Homo sapiens: one gene and its partners. The protein of the gene in region 2 purifies or fractionates together with the protein of the main gene of each other region. This does not show direct contact. Each region holds a gene or a part of one and is shown on either strand. Other genes may lie near its edges.

Evidence for each region. Proteins that work in one complex are often made in the same cells at the same time.
Region 1: the proteins of NCK2 (region 2) and BRK1 purify together in Homo sapiens (affinity purification with mass spectrometry; 4 studies listed by BioGRID and IntAct, with this or other methods). This does not show direct contact.
Region 3: the proteins of NCK2 (region 2) and WIPF2 purify together in Homo sapiens (affinity purification with mass spectrometry; 5 studies listed by BioGRID and IntAct, with this or other methods). This does not show direct contact.

The regions. Positions count from the first base shown.
Region 1 is NC_000003.12:10,111,857-10,118,693, reverse strand, and holds the start of BRK1 (protein BRICK1), read right to left. Parts: upstream 3,020-6,837; 5' UTR 2,993-3,019; coding exon 2,875-2,992; intron 1-2,874. UniProt on the Homo sapiens protein: Involved in regulation of actin and microtubule organization. Part of a WAVE complex that activates the Arp2/3 complex. As component of the WAVE1 complex, required for BDNF-NTRK2 endocytic trafficking and signaling from early endosomes.
Region 2 is NC_000002.12:105,740,761-105,747,915, reverse strand, and holds the start of NCK2 (cytoplasmic protein NCK2), read right to left. Parts: upstream 3,005-7,155; 5' UTR 2,778-3,004; intron 2,311-2,777; exon of another isoform or gene 1,577-2,310; intron 1-1,576. UniProt on the Homo sapiens protein: Adapter protein which associates with tyrosine-phosphorylated growth factor receptors or their cellular substrates. Maintains low levels of EIF2S1 phosphorylation by promoting its dephosphorylation by PP1.
Region 3 is NC_000017.11:40,264,297-40,271,322, reverse strand, and holds part of WIPF2 (WAS/WASL-interacting protein family member 2), read right to left. Parts: intron 6,834-7,026; coding exon 6,177-6,833; intron 1-6,176. UniProt on the Homo sapiens protein: Plays an active role in the formation of cell surface protrusions downstream of activated PDGFB receptors. Plays an important role in actin-microspike formation through cooperation with WASL.

The sequences.
Region 1 (6,837 bases), on a different chromosome or scaffold from region 2:
CCAACATGGCGAATCCTGTCTCTACTAAAAATACAAATATTAGCCGGGCATGGTGGCACACACCTGTAGTCCCAGCTACTCAGGAAGCTAAGCCAAGAAAATCACTTGAACCTGGGAGATGGAGGTTGCAGTGAGCCGAGATCATGCCACTGCACTTCAGCCTAGGTGACAGAATGAAAATCTGTCTCAAAAAAAAAAATCTACCTGTAAATGGATCCATGCACTTCAAACATGTATTGTTCAAGGGACAATTGTACAAGCCTACTAATGGCTTAGGATGGGAAAAAAACATCCCATACATAGTCATCCTGACTCATTCAATACCAAGACAACATACTCAAGTCTATCCTTATAATTTAATTTATCCAGTTTCGCAGCCGGTGGGGTCTTTTTCTAAACTCTTGCATTGTGATAGTGTCAATCTTTTTTTTTTTTTTTTTTGGAGACAGAGTCTCGTCTTTTGCCCAAGCTGCAGTGCAGTGGCACGATCCCTGCTCACTGCAACCTCTGCCTCCCCGGTTCAAGCAATTCTCCTGCCTCAGCCTCCTGAGTAGCTGGGATTACAGGTGTGCAACACCATGCCCAGCTAATTTTGTATTTTTAGTAGAGACAGGGTTTCACCATGTTAGCCAGGCTGATCTCAAACTCGACCTCAGGTGATCTGCTCGCCTCAGCCTCCCCAAGTGCTGGGATTACAGGCATGAGCCACCATGCCAATCTTTAAGAACTTGCCTCAGGTACACCTAACTGCTAAGTCAAATTCCTTTGACTGTTAATCCTGCATTATAATTCTCTTCTTACTTAGTTGTATTTAATTGTTATTTTCTCTAAATTCACTTTCTAAAATCTTTAAAAACCACCTAGTAATTACTCCAAACATTTGGCCATTATCATCACTTTAAGGGAGGATAATGATCTAAGCTAAGGGAAGTCATTTCTTTTGGCTCCAAAAGACTGGACTTCTGTATGTCTAATTCCTTAGTTTAGAATTTTTGGGGGCAGGGCACAGTGGCTCAGGCCTGTAATCCCAGCACTTTGGGAGGCCGAAGCGGGTGGATCACTTGAGCTCAGGAGTTTGAGACCAGCCTGGGCAAGATGGCCAAAACCTGCCTCTATTTTTAAAAGCACAAAAATCAGCCAGGTGTGGTGGTGCACACCTGTAATCCTAGCTACTCAGGAGGCGGGGGCATGAGAATCATTTGAATCCAGGAGGAAGAGGTTGCAGTGAGCTGAGATCACGCCACTGCACTCCAGCCTGGGCTAGAGTGAGACCCTGTCTCAAAAAAAAAAAAAAAAAAAAGAATTTGTTGAAAAGCCCAAATAAAGTCTTTACTCTCTATCTGATCATAAAATGTGACTCTTACAAATTAGACATAAAAATATCCAAGCTGATATCTCCTTGCCTATAAAGCAAGAAAAGGGACATTTCTCCTTTGCAAATCCTAAGCTTAGGCTTTTCAATTTTCAGTCAGTCGCCTAGGCTGGAGTGCAGTGGCATGAACATGGCTCACTGCCTTCAGGGCTCAAGTGATCCTCCTGTCTCAGCCTCCCGAGTAGCTGGGACAACAGGTGTGCATGACCATGCCCAACTAATTTTTTTGTTGTCGTTGTTTTGTAGAGATAGGATCTGGTCATGTTGCTCAGGCTGGTCTTGAACTCCTGGGCTCAAGCAATCCTCCCACCTTGGCCTCCCAAAGTGCTGGGATTACAGACATAAGCCATTGAACTCAGCCACGATTATAGTCCTAAACACCCTGTATGAAAATACTTTAATACAAAAATGATGCTCTTCTTTGTCCTGAAGTTGTCATTATTTCATCTTCAAGATTAGAACTTCTTTGAATGTAGGAAGTGGTTCTTATTCTGTGTCTCCCACTATGCCTTAAGAGAGGGCCTCATATGGAGCTCTAGCATCTCTCGCTGATGCTTTCTGACAATCTCTTGCTCTGTCACCTTTGTACTCCTAAGGCCATCAGTCCTTTAGTTAGAGAATCATTCATTTAAAAATCTTTCCAAAGTACACTAGTCCCTATATCCTGTAATTACACAAGAAAGTCTAACCAGTGCCAAGTTCTGTTAAACACTTGGAGAAGAAGGGGTAGGAATCTCGATTGCTTTGCTTGCTGTTCATAAGGAAGAATTTAAGGCTGTCACAAGCAGGCCATGCCTAGGAAAGATTCTGGTAAAGATATCTTTCTGCTGAAGGCACCCGACCTGTGTTAGCTCTGAGGAATGGGCTAGAAGCAGACAGAACACCTACCATAAGCTATATATACTAGCAATACAGAGAGGACTTCCAAGGTCCTACAAGATCCTGGCATCCCTCTGACCTCATCTCCCACCACTCTCACCGCAGCAGACACAGGAAACAGGAAGGAATGGACAAGACGGGAGTGGTTGACAACGGGTCCAACTAAAAGGCACGACGCTAGAGGGTATCGACCAGATCCTGAAGATGGGGAACGGTCAACAGTCTTGAAACAGAGGAGTGACACGGTCCCGGATGCTCACTTTGAGTGCAAAGTGGGGACCGGAATGGATGCAGAGTACAAAGGAGGCAGGGAGACCACTTAGGAGAAGAACCACGGAGCGAGGATGGGGCTGCCTGACGCGTCTAGGAGAAGGACTTGTAGAATGGATCCAGAGGGATGGCAGGAAGCCATGAGCTCAGCGTAGGGCAGGATAACCCTACAGAGACTGTCTACGGGAGCCTGAGGGTCAGGGCGGGAGGGAGAAGGTGGGACCTGAAGGAGGAAGTGAAAACCCGCAACAGCCGAAGGCTGCGGGAGTCCTCTCAAAGCATCTCCCCGGCGCCCCAGCCCAACCACCTCAGCGGCCTCCCTCCTCCCCGCCTCCCCTTGCTGGCCCGCTGACCGAACGAGTTGAGAAAGTCTGCGATTTTCTTGATGCTGCTGGTGATTATCTCAATGTACTCCCGGTTAGCCCAGTCCTGGTGAATCTCCCGCTGCACCGGATCCTCCTGTCCCGCCATGGCCGCCGCCTGAGGAAGAGCGACTGCGCAGGCGCCCCGACCCTACAGGCCTCTAGTGCGCCTGCGCTGCCAGGCCACACCCATCCTCTTGAGCACCCACGAATTCTCGGGCACTATGATAGGCCTGTGCAACGTCACGTCCTCGCCGGCGTTTGCTCTCTACTCCCACGCTATAGAACACAGAAGCCTGGACGCCGGCGGCGAGGTTGTAGTGCACGCGCGTTATGGTCGTTACACGGCGCGTGGGGTCTTGCCGTCTCCCTCAACTGCTCCAGGCTCAGGTTGCGCACTCAGTGTCCGCAGTGAGATGGGCACAGTCGATTAAATCACATTAAATACAAGTCTTTTTTTTTTTTAGACGGAGTCTAAAAAATAATATGGTCATAAATAGCTGGGCACACTGCAAACTGGAACAGTCCCTTTCAGAAGGAAATTTGTGTTTTTGTGTTGTTTTTTGAGACAAGGTTTTTTCTTGTTTTTTGTTTTTTTGAGACGGAGTCTTGCTCTGTCGCCCAGGCTGGAGTGCAGTGGTGTGATCTCGGCTCACTGCAACCTCCGCCTCCCAGGTTCAAGCTATTCTCCTGCCTCAACCTCCCGAGTAGCTGGAATTACAGGCGCACACCACCACGCCCGGCTAATTTTTTTGTATTTTTAGTTGAGATGGTGTTTCACCATGTTGGCCAGACTGGTCTCGAACTCCTGACTTCAGGCAATCCGCCCGCCTCGGCCTCCCAAAGTGCTGGGATTACAGGTGTGAGCCACCTCGCCCAGCCTGAGACAAGGTCTTACTGTCGCCCAGGCTGGAATGCAATGGCATGATCATGGCTCACTGCAGCCTCGAACTCCTGGGCTTGAACTCCTGGGCTCAAGCTATCCTCCAGCCTCAGCCTCTGGTGTAGTTGGGACTACAGGCTCACGTCACCACGCCTGGCTAATTTGTGTATTTTTTGTAGACACGGGGTTTCACCATGTTGGCCAGGCTGGTCTCGAACTGACAGGTGATCTACCCACCTCGGCCTCCCAAAGTGCTGGGATTATACGCATGAGCCACCATGCCCGGCCTATTATGCAGTCATTTAAATGCTAATTATGAACACAAGCAACATGAAAACACATACAATAAATTGAGGGGAAAAACAAAATACCCTCCCTCCCTCCCTTCCTTCCTTCCTTTTCTTACTTTTTTTTTTTAAGACAGAGTTTCTCTGTTAATGCCCAGACTGGAGTGCAATGGCACGATCTTGGCTCACTGTGACCTCTGCCTCCCGGGTTCAAGTGATTCTCCTGCCTCAGCCTCCCAAGTAGCTGGGATTACAGGTGCCCGCTACCACACCTGGCTATTTTTTGTATTTTTTAGTAGAGACGGGGTTTCAGCATGTTGGTCAGGCTGGTCTCCAACTCCTGACCTCAAGTGATCTGCCCACCTCGGCCTCCCAAAGTGCTGGGATTACAGACATGAGCCACCCTGCCTGGCCCACATTTTTCTTTAATTGCAACTATGGAAAAATGTATGTTTGAGGACAAGAAGGATCTACAAAAAAAGTCACTATCTGCTTTGCTAAGGTAGTGGAATATGAACAACTTTATTCTCATTTCAGGGAATACTTACAATCTGGCATGCAGTAAATGCTCTTTTTTTTGAGACAGTCTTGTTCTGTTGCTCTGGCTGGAGTGCAGTGGCTCGATCTCGGCTCACTGCAACCTCTGCCTCCCGGGTTCAAGCAATTCTGCCTCAGCTTCTCAGGTAGCTGGGACTACAGGCGCACACCACCACACACAGCTAATTTTTTTTTTTTTTTACCAGAGATGGGGTTTCACCATGTTGGTCAGGCTGGTCTCAAACTCCTGACCTCAGATGATCTACCTGCCTCAGCCTCCCAAAGTGTTGGGATTACAGGTGTGAGCCACTGTGCCCGGCCAGTAAATGCTTTTTATTAAAAAGAAAAAATGTGGCTCAGTGGCTGGGTGTGTGGCTCACATCTGTTAATCCCAGCACTTTGGGAGCCTAAGGCGGGCGTATTGCTTGGGGCCAGGAGTTCGAGACCAGCCTGGCCAACACAGTGAAACCCTGTCTCTGCAAAAAATAGAAAAATTAGGCATGGTGGCATGTGCCTGTAATCCCAGCTACTTGGGAGGCTGAAGTGGGAGGATCACCTGAGCCGAGGGAGGTCAAGGCTGTAGTGAGCAGTGATTGCACTCTTGCACTCAAGCCTGGGTGACAGAGTGAGACCCTGTCTCAAAAAAAAAAAAAAAAAAAGTGGCTGAAGAGTCAGATTACTACCAGTATTAGCATTAACTGGGAAGAAACCATTACTAACAGTTATTTACCCCAGTAGAGAATTTTATAACCTATAAAGATGCTTTTATAGCTATTACCTTACTGGACCCTCACAAACCCTGTGGAAGGAAGCCAGGAAGAAGTTTCTCATTTGAAAATAAAAAATCAGAAATCTGATGTTCAAGGTAACAAAGCCGATTAAAAGGTAGACCCTAACCAGCTGATTCCAGACTTCATTATCTCTTCACTATACCGCTCTGAAAACAGGTTAAAGTCTGTCTGAGCTCTCCTATGAATACATGTAAATGATTTTTTTTTTCCAGACGGAGTTTCGCTCTTGTTGCCCAGGCTGGAGTGCAATGGCGCCATCTTGGCTCACCGCAACCTCCGCCTCCCGGGTTCAGGCGATTCTCCTGCCTCAGCCTCACGAGTAGCTGGGATTACAGGCATGTGCCAGCACGCCTGGCTAATTTTTTTTTTGTATTTTTATTAGAGATGGGGTTTCTCCATGTTGGTCAGGCTAGTCTTGAACTCCCGACCTCAGGTGATCCACCTTCGTCGGCCTCCCAAAGTGCTGGGATTACAGGCATGAGCCACCACGCCCAGCCTACATATAAATGATTTCTAAAATAAATAATAGATATAGAGAATTAGGGAAGCCTAAGCATGCAGTAGGCTATCTGCTGCTCAAGGCCCTGTATCCTAAGTGATGCTGTTGAAGTGGCATTTTGCTTAGATATCACAAAGTCAGATAGACCTGCTTTTCCTTTAAAGGTATTGCATCAGCCGGGCATGGTGGCTGTAATCCCTGTAATCCCAGCACTTTGGGAGGCCGAGGCAGGTGGATCATCTGAGGTCAGGAGTTTGAGACCAGCCTGGCCAACTTGGTGAAACCCTGTCTCTACTAAAAATACAAAAAAAAAAAAAAAATTAGCTGAGGGTAGTGGCAGGCGCCTGTAATCCCAGCTACTAGGGAGGCTGAGGCAGGAGAATTGCTTGAACCTGGGAGGCGGAGGGTGCAGTGAGCCGAGATCGCACCATTGCACTACAGCCTGGGTGACAACGGTAAAACTCTGTCTCAAAAAAATAAAATAAAAAATAAAGGTATTGCACCATGGTTTGAAATCTTAAATCTACCATCCAGGAGTCATTTCACCTCTCTGAGCTTTGGTTTCTTTATGTATAATTCAAGGATAACAACACTGATGAATTAGGATTGTTGGAGGATTATGTGAGAAAGTATAAATAAAACACTAAGCACAATGTCTAGCTCTTCATAAAGCATGCACTCAGGATCAGTTTATATTTTCTTATTATGCAGACGGCAGAAAACTGTATCCAACAATTTTTTTTTAATGAACATCTTCCATGGACAGGTCAGACTCAAGTCTTGTCCTTTTGGTTGACTTTCTATACACCTGTTCCAGAATCTCCCTTGTAATTCTAGATGACTCAAGGATATGATGCTGTTCTTGAGTGAAGATGGTTCCTTTGGACCTCAGGAGCCTTTTCCTAAACGCTTTACAGAGCTTGCTGTCAGACAGTCCTCTAGTTATGGGTTTGCTAG
Region 2 (7,155 bases):
ATGCAAAACTGTTTTTGCTTTAGCTGCACACTTTTGATAGCCCGTTAAAAGGCCGTCACGACCTTCTTCTGAGTTGCCTTAACTCAGGCATGGAACAAGATACACGAAATCACATTTTAGCTTAGGCCCTTTGAAAACGTGCCGTGAAGTATTTCCATCACTCATTTTAGGAAACAGAAACCATTTGGAAGTGCCACTCGCAAACCCTCTGGATGGGAAAACTAATTTCCTAAGCATCTGAAGTGAGCTGTAGGGAGTTTCCAGTTCATTTGTGAAAAAAGTTAGCTTACTTGTTTTTCCAAACATCACTCATCATCCTCCCCTGTAGTTCCAGCAAGCAATTCTGAGCTCTTCAGTCTTTAAGCCTCATTTTTAATGTCAGAGAATGATTTCCGCAAGCCCTGTCTCCCCCAGTGCACACGGCAAGCCAGTTTGAGCAGTTAGAAAAATGGGTGTCCCATAGAGCCTCGCAGCCTGGTCTATCCAGGGCAAACTAAGCTAGTGCAACTGATCAAGTAAAGGACTCCAGTGCATTCTGCGCCATTCCGGGAGTCTTAGGGTATTTTAAAAGGTTATCCAGTCTGTGCACATGCAAGGAAGATTTCCGGTGTATTTAATATGGATGGTAGTGCATTTCTCAAATATAGTACTGTGTACATAAGATCTGCTGTTTGTTGGAAAAGCTAAATAACCGAAAATGTAAATGACAAAGCCTGGGAATATGGCAGGGTCAAACAGAGCAAGGATGAAGAAGATTTAAGTATGCAGCGTGTCCTAAGCAAAACACAAAGCATGAAAACTGAGCACAGCCACCTGCAAGGCACCTTCAGCAAGCCCGACGGTTAACAGGGTCAGTTTCTCCACAAGTGGACAGAGGGGGTTATGCAGCAGCCAACTCTTCCTGATGGCAATTTGTGACCCAATTTCATCCAGTGTTTCATGACCAACCCCCCTGAATGTTTATGAAGCAGGAAAGAAGCTCAGAATCCAGGCGAGGCCTCCGGGACAGGAAGTGGGCCAGGCACCTCCACAGCTTCCTATGCCTAAAGTTCTCCATTTCAGCCTCAAGTAGCCGCCAGAAGACCACTAAGATTCCGCCACCTTCTCCAATCAAAACTACATCTAACCAACCTCCAGGGCAGAATATACTGAGGTAGGATTTTCCCTCGTGTTCACTTCTTCACAAGCAGGTTAACACTTGCTTCTCAGGAAACCCCTGTTCCAAACGTCAAAAAACCTCCATGTCTAGCCCAATCTCCAGGTGAAGTCAATTTCTTCTCCACGTGTCCGATGACTGCCATTCTCTTTACGTAAAACTCGCAAGGCTTGAATCCTGTTACTAATTCACCTGCTTATCTATGAAGCTTGCAAAGTGAATTGAGGGAGTGTTCACACGCACAGTTCCGTTTTGGTAAGTTAAAGCGGCCCAGGTTAATTTCATTTTCAGTCACTTTTGAGACTTGATAACTACATCTAAAACAGAGGCATGAAAAACACCCTGAATCACTTTCATTCCTACACAAAATCCCTTCCGAGAAGCGGGGACTGCGCCTGGGCCAGGAAGGGACTCCCCTACCTGTAGGTCCCAGCAAGCCACGCCCACCGGCCTCTCAGGGTTGTTTCTTTCTGGGTCGAGGGACGGAGCTGGCCCTTGCGATATTTTAGGCCCCCTCCTGCCCACACTGGGGCCTGCTCATCCCATTATGCAGATGCAAACTTGGCAGAAGCAGCCTTAAACCTGTTGGCAAAATAAACAAAGCCAAATAAAGAGGAATCTGCCAACCTGAATTGTGTGAAGTGGCCAAGGCCGACTCCACGCACGCTCGGCTTTGTCCCTGAAGCTGTTACAATACTAGTTTAAGTCAGGTGCCTGGGGTCCACCAGCCAATGACCCCTAGCATCCACCGCAGACCTTCACAGAGATCCCCATTGTCTACAAATTAAAGCGTTTTGCAAATTAAACCCCTCCACACAATGCCAAGCTAACTGTGCTCATAAGGCAGTTACCCTCCATGCCTTAAAACTCACATATCAAATTTTTCCAAAAGCACTCGGTGATTAAATCGCCCTGAAAAAAACCGAGAGAGCCGAGCGATTGTGAGAAACTTTGGTTCATTCAGGTGGCTGTTAGAGTCCTGTAAATCTGGGGCAGGGCGCAGAGCCTGAAGCCGGGCACAAAAGCTCCCTTCGCCGAAGCGAGGACCTCCTTTATGCAATGTGACAGCAGCTTTGTGCGCGAACATAAATAGTTGTAATAAACACGGTTAAGTTCTCCCGGCCGATCGCGGCCTCCCCCGTCCCTGCGCCGGGGCCCTGCGATCCGCGGCTATTCTTCCCCGGCACACGCGCCCTGGCGACCCTGGCCACCGCACGGTCCCACGCTAGCCCCGAGCTCCGTGCCGGCCGCCCGCCTGCAGGCCAGGCGCAGCCTGCGCACCCGGGGGTCTCCAGTCCCCGGGCCCCGCAGCCGGGCCCCCTGCCCTGATCCTCGCCCGCGCCCTTGGCTGGCGTCCCCGCCCCTGGGCCGGCCCCCGATGGTGGGGGTTAGGGATGGGAAGGCGGGCAGGAAGGTGCAGAGCCGGGAGGTGCCCGGCAGTCCGCGGTCGGGGGCGCCCAGGCCGCGGCAGGGCCGAGAGCACCGGAGGGGCGCGGAGGGGACCCGCTCTCCTGGCCCCTTCCCGGGCGCACCCCGGCCCGCGAGCCCCGCCGCGCTCCCAACTCCGCCCAACGGCCCCAAGTTTGTGGCCCCCGCCCCACGCCCGCCTAGCCGCGCTTACCTCGCCGTGGGCCGCCCGCGGAGCCGGAGGGCAGCGGCGCGGGTCCCGGGGCGGTGGCCGCGCTGCGCCCGCCCAGGCGCCGCTCTTTGTCTGCGCCGCTCCCTCCTCCCGCCGCCGGGCGGACGCTGCCGGCCCGGGCGGACCCTGCCGGCCCGGGCGCCGCGAGCCTCCCGGCCGCCAAGCCCTCCCCTCCGCCCGCCGCCCGCTCGGCCGCGCGGCTCCGGCCTGACGATCCCCGCGGCAGCGGCGGCGGCGGCGGCGGCGGCGGCGGCGACCCTCCCCCGGCGCGCAGCGCCCGCCTCCTCCGCGCTCTTCCTCCTCCTCCCGCGCTCCTCCCCGGCCGCGCCGTGACGCCGCCCAGGGGCCGGCCCAGGCCCGGGCGCGCGGGGCGGGGACCCGAGACCCACCTGGGGCGCCCCCCGTCGTCGCCAGGCTCCGCGCCCGGGTCCCGGTACGGGCGCCGGGATAGCGCGGGGCTGCGGGACGCTCCGCTCTGGAGGCGCAGCACGGGCCGGGCGCCGGGGGCAGGAAAGGGTCCCCACGCCCGAAATTGCGTGCGGGCGGTGGGGGGCAGGGTAGGTGGGTGGGGAGGAGAGTGAAAACACAGACGGCAACTTCCAGCCTGGGATGACTGCCGGGTGGGCTTTGCGTCCTCTTTTTTGTTTGTTCGTTGTTCTTATCACGAAGCTCTAGTTGCTGGGCAGCCGCCCCCCTCCCGGAAGCATTCCCACGGCACTCAGCTAAGCAGGCCTGTTGTCCATCAGAAAAGTGACTTAAATAAAAATGTCACTTCCTCCCTGTAATTGCTTGTGGGCATTTTTATTTATTTGCTTTGCATCTATTTACTTTCCCAACCAGACACATTTTTAGTCCATCATCCCTGTCCGAGGCACTTCCTAAAAGAAGAAGAAACTCGACCTCTGTTGCCTCCCAGGCATCCAGGCCAGCCCCAGCCTGTGGAATCCTGGTTGCACACCCGTGGGGGCAGAACCCGAAGAGGAGCTGCCCGAATGTGCCCCTAGAAGGAGTGTCGCTAATGATGGGACCGTTCAGCTCACCCAGCCTCGAGTTGTGGCTAGCCTATAAACAAACTTGGAAGATGAAAACCCAAGAGCAAGGGGAAAGACACAAGTTTCCCTTTCACAGACACATGCATCCGGATGTCTTTTCTCCTCCCCATATGGTTTCCCAAAGGAAATCCTAATATTCAAATGATTCTGATTTCCTGGCAGGATAGCCTGCATCCATGTTAATGAGATTCTTTCTTAGGCTCCTGGTCTCTGCTTACTATTAAGGCAATAATAATTTACCCAAGGTTACAAGGCTGTATTATTTGATTCACTCATCTCCTGCTTCCTTCCAGAAGGGAAGTACCCAAGGATAGGTAACTAGAGTCAGCGTAGCTTTGAAGTCAGACAGGTGAGTGTTTGACTGTTGACTTCCTGAACTGTGTAACGTTGCACAGGTGGTCCTCAGCCTTTCTAAAATCTGTCATATGGGGAGATAATATTTACTTACCTCCTATGTGAAGTACCCTGGCAGTAGGTAGCCCTCAATAGCTCAGTAAGTGGAAGGAAGCACAGTACACTGAGCAGGAATCAGGTACAAGCTCAGGGAATCAGAACAGCCTCATTTTTCCTTGTTTTGACCTTGTGAAAGAAGCTACTTCAGTTCATCCTTTTGTGCAAGTTTTGTGTTACTAATATCTAGCTTTACAATAAGAAAAGAAGAATTCTAGTCATCAGTCTGCCCAATTTTAGATTAATTTACTCAAAATAAGTATAGCAATATTGACCCAGTTTGTAGCTTGTTTGCTTTGTAAACTTTCACTGAATCGTGGTTCTTGCATGCCTCTTCTTTCTCTGATTCTTTAGAAGTCACCGATGTCATTCTCTATCTAAATCCAGTGGCCCTTTATCAATCTTTATCCTGTGGAGTTTTCTGAAATATGTGGCATTTCTGCTATTTCCTGAAACACCATCATCTTTTCATTCATCAAACACAGCCAGTTCTGATTCTCTTACCTTTCTGACCTGCCCATCTGCCTCCTCTAGAGAGGTTGTTGTCTTCCCACCCTGTAAAAGTGATATCCCCAAGGCAGATGGTGGCCCTTTGTTTTTATTCTGATACGCACCTTTTTTTTTTAAAGAGAGAGTTGATTGTTTTTTGTACACTCCCTGTCTAAACCTTCATTGATTAACCCCCAGACCTGTAGCCTTAGAGAGCTCCCCTGCTAATCTGCAGAGCTCCCCAGCTAATCTGCACCCCCTAAACATGGCGCAGCATCTCTTCTAGGTCACCATGTTCAAAATGAAACTCATCTGCTCCCCAGACCAGCTCCTCCTCCCATGGTTTCAGGCCTGGCCAAGAGTCTACCAGGCACCTCAGCTCCTGGGAGAAATCTCATTGTTATCTTGGCTTTTCCTTCCCTCTCTCCGAGTTCTCCCCAAGAAAAGCTGGGAGAGCGCTGAATGACACCAAGACCCCTTGCAGACTACCCCCATGGTTCTGAGTCCTGGTGATTCTTAAACATCTTTTCCACTGCACCTTTCTTTCCATTTCCATCACTGGCATCCTAACTTATACATCATTCTAGCAATAGTTATAATGTACCTTGATTGAATTCTTGACATATATCATCTCTAATCCACACACAATAGTATTATACCCATTTTACAGATGAAATCACTTGAACAGTGGATCAAAGAACTGGGGTCAGAGCATGTACCTGACTCCAAAACTCTTGTTCAATTCCCCACAACTACTGCCTTCCAACTGGTCTCCCATTACTTCCTTCTTAAATCCCTCAGACTCACACTGGACATCAATGTCATCCTAACCTTCCTGTAAATTGTTTCCATTTGTCCCTGGTTGTGCTCAAGAACTTCTCATGGCTCCCCATTGCCCACCACAGTCTCCTCAAAAGTTATCTGATGACTGAAGACTGAGCATTTTCCCCCAGAGAGGCTGGGGTATTTAGCCCTTAGAGGCCTGTGTTCGTTTCCTGGGGCTGCCTTAACAAATGACCCCAAACTAGGTGACAAAACAGAGGTTATTTTCTCAAAGTTCTGGAGTTCAGAAGTCTGATATCAAGACACCAGCCTCTCTCCAAAGTCTGTAGAGAACAATCCTTCCCTGCCTCTTCCAGCTTCTGGTGGCTGCAGACATTCCTTGGCTTGTGGCAGTGTCACTCCCACCTCTGCCTCTCTGTCTTCACACAACCTGGTTCCCTGTGTCCTTTCCCTTCTCTCTTTTTGTAAAGACAAGTATCATTGAATTTAGGGCTCACTCTAATCCAGCATGATGTCATCTCGACATCCTTATCTTACAACATCTGCAAAGACCTTTTTTCCAAATAAGGTCGCGTTCTCGGCTTCCAGGTGAACATATCTTTTGGGGCCAACATCCAACCCACTGCAAGGCTTAACATGGGGGAGACATTTCTTTGAAGCTTATGTTTTATCTAAAAATATATAGGTTTTTCTGCATTCTACTCCATTAATGTGTCCACATCTGTTTTACTGTCTTCAATCACAAAGTATTGAAAGCATAAAAAACATGGAGTGGAAGGAGGTGCAGTAAACTTTTGCCTAAAATCACATCAGCATTACATCTTATGATCTCTCTTCCAAAGGCCTCTCCAACTTAGCCCTGCCATACAATCTCCTTTTTACCTCTGTCCAGTATAAGCTGTTTGCTTCAGTCACTCAGCTCTGCCCACAGTGCCACATTGAGTCACACTAGTTTCAGCCTTCTGTGGTGTGAAGGCAGCTAGGAATTCCCTGTCCCCGTCCTTCTCTTTCAGAGCTCCATTCAAGGCCTTCTCTAACCCCTCCTTAGACTCACGGAAAACACAAAGCAAGGTTGAGGGTGTTGTCCAAGTCATACGTCAGAGGCTCAAAGCCTACCTTGGAGCCTGTGCCTTGGGGTCATTTCACCTCTCTGAGCCTCAGATATTAATAGTGCTCTTGCAAAGCGTTGTGAGAATTAAAGGAGATAATATAAACATGTCTCAACTGTGTGTTCAGCACATGGTAAACACTCATGTCTCCTTTCTCATGACCTTCTCTTGTAACCCTCAATTCAATTAAGCATATCTGGTGTAGTTCTATTTGTAAGGCATTATAAGATCCACTTCAGGATTCATTCATTTGGTGCAGACACCAAAGAACACCTGGATGTGCAAAGAGCAGATATAAGATTGCATTATTCAGAGAGGTTATAACGCAAACTGGAGTGGAGTGAAAGGATGGGAAAATAGTTTAGGAGAAATGGAGAGGAAAGACCCAAAAGGAAGGATGAAACCAGCATACAAATAACTATAATATAAAACTAAATATGAACAGTACCAAAGAAAATATGTCTAGAGAATCAGGAG
Region 3 (7,026 bases), on a different chromosome or scaffold from region 2:
ACTCAGCTTAACAGACAAAACTGTTTTTAGTAGTAAAACGGTATCTTGGCTAGGCATAGTGGCTCACATCTGTAATCCCAACACTCTGGGAGGCTGAGGCAGGCAGATTGCTTGATGCCAGGAGTTCGAGATCAGCCTGGGCAACATGATGAAACCTCACCTCAAATTTTAAAAAAGTACAAAAATTAGCCAAGCGTGGTGGCACACGCCTGCAATCCCAGATATTCTGGAGCCTGAGGTGGGAGGAGCTTGAACCTGGGAGATGGAGGCTGCAATAAGCCAACATCGCGCCACTGCACTCCAGCCTGGTGACACAGCAAGACTGTCTCAAAGAAAAGAGTATCTTATTATTCCTCCTGATTACTATCAGAATTGCTGTAGTGACTATAGTTAAGCATGTAACACAGTAATAGAATAACATACACACACACACACACACAATCTGGCACAATAAGCCCAATAAATGTTTTTGCTTCCCGTAAGACACACTCAGAATGTCAACTCTTCCTCACTGTTTCCAAGCTTTGTTCAGTAGAAACAGGGGACACTAGATGCAATAATTAAAGAGAAATCTTGTAACTCCCAGCAGATCTCTGAGCCTTGTTTTGATTCCAAATCTACTCAAACTAAAGCTCTTTAAGAATAGAAGCTTCTTTAAGCCCTCAAAAATATTCCCTAAAACCCAGATTCCTCAAGGCCCTGAGAATTTGTATCTACTCCTAGGCCAGGGCAGCAAGGTAAACAGGGTTAGCCAGGTTCACAAGGACACCGACACCAGCTAGACACCAGGCAGGTGACAGCGATGAGACGACCTGGAATGGCAAAATAGAGCAGGGTAAGAGTGATCTGTTTGGCTTCTCCAGCTCCCTCCCTCATCCCAGCCAGGTTCTGCTGTCTCCAATAAGCTTCTGGGCTCTTTGTCAGATCCAGTTATTTTTCTTTTTTTTTTTTTTTTTTGAGACGGAGTCTCGCTCTGTCCCCCAGGCTTGAGTACAGTGGCACGATCTCGGCTTACTGCAAGCTCCGCCTCCCGGGTTCATGCCACTCTCCTGCCTCAGCCTCCCCAGTAGCTGGGACTACAGGCACCCGCCACCACGCCCGGCTCATTTTTGTATTTTTAGTAGAGAGACAGGGTTTCACCGTGTTAGCCAGGATGGTCTCAATCTCCTGACCTCATGATCTGCCCGCCTCAGCCTCCCAAAGTGCTGGGATTACAGGCATGAGCCACCGCACCCGGCCCCAGATCCAGTTTTAAGACTGTTTCAAGTGACAGAGCCAGAACTCCAGTCCCTAAAAAACAATTTCCAAAAGAAGTCCTGGGATGGGAGACAGGCTTTTGTAATCCAAGATTAACCCTAATTTTGAGAAAAGTATGATGGTTTCTATTTTTCTCAAATTCCCTTAAAAATGGACAGTGTTGGCGGGTGCAGTGGCTCATGCCTATAATCCCAGCACTTTGGGAGGCCAAGGCAGGCGGATCACAAGGTCAGGAGATAGAGACCATCCTGGCTAACATGGTGAAACCCCATCTCTACTAAAGATACAAAAAAATTAGTCGGGTATGGTAGCGGGTGCCTGCAGTCCCAGCTACTCGGGAGGCTGAGGCAGGAGAATGGCGTGAACCTGGGAGGTGGAGCTTGCAGTGAGCCGAGATCGCGCCACTGCACTCCAGCCTGGGCGACAGAGCAAGACTCCATCTCAAAAAAAAAAAAAAAAAAAAAAGACAGTGTTTTACTCTGCAAAGAAAAAATTCTTGAAACAAACTCTATGAACCAATAATGCTAGTTTTTGGGTTTTGGGGGGGCGGGTTTTGAGGCAGGGTCTTGCTCTGCTGCCTAGGCTGGAGTGCAGTGGCGTGATCTCAGCTCTCTGCAGCCTCTGCCTCCTGGGCTCAAGTGATCCTCCCATCCTAGCCTCCCAAGTAGCTGGGACCACAGGCACACGCTACCACGCCTGGCTAGGTTTCTTAAATTTATTTTTATTTATTTATTTATTTATTTTTTGAGACAGAGTCTCGCTCAGTCACCCATGCTGGAGTGCAGTGGTGCAATCTTAGCTCACTGCAACCACAATCTCCCGGGTTCAAGCGATTCTCCCGTCTCAGCCTCTCGAGTAGCTGGGATTACAGGCACCCGCCATCATGCCTGGCTAATTTTTGTATTTTAGTAGAGAGATGGGGTTTCACCATGTTGGCCAGGCTGGTCTTGAACTCCTGACCTCAGGTGATCTGCCTGTCTCAGCCTCCCAAATTGCTAGGATTACAGGCGTGAGCCACTGCACCCGGCCTAGTTTTTTTATTTTTTGTAGTAATGGGGTTTCACCATGTTGCCCAGGCTGGTCTTGAACTCCGTCTCAAGCGATCCTCCTGCCTCAGCCTCCCAAAGCACTAGGATTACAAGTGTGAGCCTGTGTCCCTGACCCCCACTGTACTTTTCAAATGTACATTTTACAGGTGAGAAAAGAGAATCGGTGAGAAAAGAGAATCAGTGATCTGTCCAATGTCACACAACAAATCGAGGCAATACTCAAATGATCTCTGACTAAAATATCTCAATTTTTTTCTGGTTTATCACTCTTAAGAATTGCTGCTCTAGCCAGGTACAATTGCTCACATCTGTAATCCCAGGGCTTCGGGAGGCCAAGGTGGGAGGATGGCTTGAGCCCAAGAGTTTGAGTCCAGCCTGGGCAACACAGACCTCATCTTAAAAAATAAAAATAAAAAAAAATTTTAATGAGCCAGACATGGTGGCAACACTCCTGTAGTCCTAGCTACCACAGAGAAAGAATGGAAAAGTGGGAAGCAAGAAAGCCTGCAGACATTTAAAAGTGCTCAGCTCAACCCACGGAAATTGCATTTTTCTCTTCTTCTATTCCTGGATGAGGTCAGAAAGATATGAGCTTTGCTCAGACAAAGAGTCTTTTGTAAAATCCCTAAGTTAAAAAAAAAGTCAAACCTGAACTTTATAGAATCAAGGGCCACCTTAGCACTACCTCATTATGGCTAAAGCTAGGGAGATATGGGATCAGGAATGCAGTAGGCCACTGTTTGGCTGCCCTATGTTAGATGGCCAGCTGCTAGAGTACAAATCTGTATGTACTGAACAAAGAAGCTGCACACAGGTTAATGGACTTTTAATGCCTTGCTACTTAATGATATAACCTTTACCCTTTTTTTGGGACAACGTCTTGCTGTGTTGCCCAGGCTGAAGTGCAGTGGCACTAATACAGCTCACTGCAGCCTCCACCTCCCAGGCTCAAGTGGTCTTCCCACCTCAGCCACTCAAGTAGCTGGGACTACAGGCATGCACCGCCATGCCAGGCTAATTTTTTAAAATTATTTTTTGTAGAGACAGGGTTTTGCCATGTTGCCCAGGCTGGTCTCGAACTCCTGGGCTTAAATGATCTGCTGGCCTCAACCTTCCAAAGTGCTGGGATTAAGGCGTGAGCCATCATGCCCAGACTCCATGACATAACTCCTTAATCAATGTTCTATACCTGTAGAAACTGACTTTAAAATAAAAGCTAAGGGCTGGGCGCAGTGGCTCACTTGAGGTCAGGAGTTTGAGACCAGCCTGGCCAACACGGCGAAAACCCGTTTCTACTAAAAATACAAAAATTAGCCAGATATGGTGGCACATGCCTGTAATTCCAGCTAGTCAGGAGGCTGAGACACAACAATCACTTGAACCTGGGAGGAAGAGGTTGCAATGAGCAGAGATTGCACCACTGCACTCCAGCCTGGGCGAAAGAGCAAGGCTCTGTCTCAAAACACAAACAAACAAATAAATAAATAAAGGCCAAGAAGCTGTTTGTGGAGGGTATGTCTCAAAGTCTAATGATACAACGATATGGGAGCCAAAATTCCCATGTCCAATAAGGCCCCAGAGAGCTGTCACGGTCTCCCTCACTCTAAAATTTCAGTTATGCTAATTATAACGAGATTACACAACCTCTTCTTTTTCCAGGGTTCCTAAATTCCCTCCTCACCCAGCTTAGGCTCCATTATTGCAATCACTCCCTCACATACACCCTTCCCTTCCTGCCCCACTCTCCCTTAGAGTCGCACATGCCTAAAACATGCTAACGCTGGTTAAACACAGCTCTACTCTTTTTCTGTACCTGCAAATCACAACTGAACACATGAGACTAATTAATCTCACATGAAATGTATGGCCCATAATCTCAAGTGGGCCCTTCGCGTGGTTGCCTATCTGAGCACACTTCCCTAGTCCACCCACACTCCCACGCTCCAGATGACCATTTCATGCCTCTTCTCTCTCCTCAACTCTCCTTCTCCTTCCCTCGCCTCAATCACAGCTGATGCTCTTGCTTTCCATTTCACTGAGAAAACAGAAGCAAATTAGAATAAACTTTCCACATGCTTCTACCACTACACCCACCTACCCACTTGCTTCTAAGCCTATATGCTCTGCCTCCCCTCTTGTTACTATGGAAGAACTATGTTCCTATCTAAGGCCAACCCTTTTTATCTATCGATCACATTCTCTTTTCTCTGGCCTCCTCCAGGTCATTATTCAGGCAATCTGTTCCCTCTCTTCTGATTCAATTTTTTCCCTCTCTCCTAAGTTTCATGCTACTCATTCCATCAGCATACAAATAGGTCTCCCATCTTGGGATGGGAAAAAAACAACTCTCAACCCCACATCTTCGTCCAACAATCACTTCACTTATCTTCACCCCTCTCTCCTGGACTTTACAGCGAACTCTTTAAGAGATTTCTATATTGCTATCTCCAATTTCTCTCCTCCTATTCCTGCATTCTTGAACCCACTCCAATTAAGCTTTCACTTTCACCCTCCACCACTCCACTGAAACTACTCAAAAGGGTCCCATGATACTAAGACCAATGCCAGTTCTTGGTCTTTAACTTACCTGACCCATCTGCAGCACTGGGCACAGCTGACCACTTACTCTACCTTGGAGTTTTTCCATCACATTCTTGGTTTTTCTCCTTCCATCCTCACTAGAAGCTTTTCTGTTTCCTCTGCTGGGTATTCTTCATCTCTTTTGCCTCTAATGTAGGAGGGCGAGGGCTCAGCCCTCATTTTTTTTTTTTTTTTTTTTGAGATGGACTGTCACTCTGTCGCCCAGGCTGGAGTGCAGTGGCGTGATCTCGGCTCACTGCAACCTCTGCCTCCTGAGTTCAAGCGATTCTCCTGCCTCAGCCTCCTAGGCCTCTTCTTATCTATATTCACTCCTTAGGTGACTTCATCCAGCATGTGGTTTTCAACACCATTCAAATGTATCTCTCTAGCCGAAACCTCTCCCCTCAACTTTGGAGTCTGATAGCCAATTACCAATTCATTGTCTCTTCTTGATTACCTAACAGGCATCTCAAACTTGTCTCAAACTGAACACCTATCTTCCCACAAATTCACAGTAGTCCTAACCATCTGGCCGTTTACTGCAACAGCCCAGTAACTGGTCTCCTTTTGTCACCTTTGTCCTCCTGCGGTCTGTTCTCAACATAGGAGTTAATGATCTTTTTAAAAGGTGAATCAAATCATACTACTTCTCTGTTTAAAACCCTCCAGTGGCTTCCCATCTCACACAGTTAAATCCAAGGTCTTTGCAAAATCCTGCAGTGCGCTCTCCCCTGCAGCTCCAGCTTTCCAACCTCCAAGTCCTACCACTCTTCCCTCCCCTCACTCTTTGTAGTCTTGCCACAATGGCCCCCTTGCTGTCCCCAAAATGTTTCAAGAATACTTCTGCCTTATGGCCTCTGCATTTGTTGTTCCCACTGCCTGCAACAGCTGTTCTCCTAGATAACTACTAAGCTTACTCGTCACTTTCTTAAGGTCTTTGTCAAATTTTCACCGTATCAGTAAGGACTGTCCTGACTCTCTCCCCACTCCTCCAATTAAAGATATCATCATCCCGACCTCCGCCCCAGTATATCTTATTCCTCTCCTCTGCTTTGTAATTCTCTAAAGCATACTGCATACTATGTATTTATATATTTTACTAGTTTGACTGTCAAATTTTTTTGTCTTTTCTATTTATTGCTATTTCCCTACCAACAGACCTGACACATAAAAAGGTACTCAATAAACCCACTGAGTGAATAAACGAATTACTGTCTTCAAGGAGTGCTCTGGGGAAAGATAAAATCAACTCACAGCATGATAGGGAAAAAGGTGCTTCCAAGCACTTACCTGCTCCCCGACTGGGAGGGTCTCGGGCTGGGGGAGGTGGCCTATTACTCAGTAAAGATGGGGAGGCCGAGGTGGGTGGAGGAGGTGCTAGGCCTCTGACAGGCCCTGGTGTCTTCCTATGCAAAGAATTGTGTCTCTGTGGCAGCTCAGGGGCTGACTCATTAGTGGGGCTAGAGGGTCCATTGGGGACCCCAGGAGGCTGGCGGTAAGGCGGAGGAGGAGGAGCCAGAGACTGGCCACTTGGTCCTGTTCTGATATTCACAGGGGAAGGAGGTGGTTTGACTGGGGGTGGAGCAGGAGGTCCCTCTCGACCAGGGTGAAGCCTTTGTCCAGGCGTCGGTGGCAAGGGTTTCTCTCTGTTGTAGGCGGGGGCTTTGCTGCTGTGCATAGGCAGAGGTGTGGGGGGTGCGTTGGCACGCCGCCCTGGGGGTGGTGGGGGAGGGGCAGAGGAGCTGTGCTTCATGCCCGTACTGCTGGTGGTATTAGGCCGAGAGAGGTCCGGTAAAGAGGGTCTCTGCATCCGGGGCAGTTCTGGGAGTGAGGCCCGGCTGCTGTCTGTATCATCCTGAGGACGCCCGCTGGCGGCAGATACTGGAGGCCTTGGGGCAGCAGCTCGAGAACTGGGGATTTGCAGGGCTGGCTTACCAGCTAGGTTCTCTACAAATACATAGACAACACAGGGTCAACAGAGCTGGACAGATATTGGTCAGTATCCCTACTTCACTCGGCTCCTTAGTGCAACCTGCATGGCAGCAGGGAAAGGAATTGAATAATTCTGGGTTTTTTGTTTTTCTTTTTTTTTTTTTTTTTTTTTTTTTTTGAGACGAAGTTTCGCTGTTGTTGCCTAGGC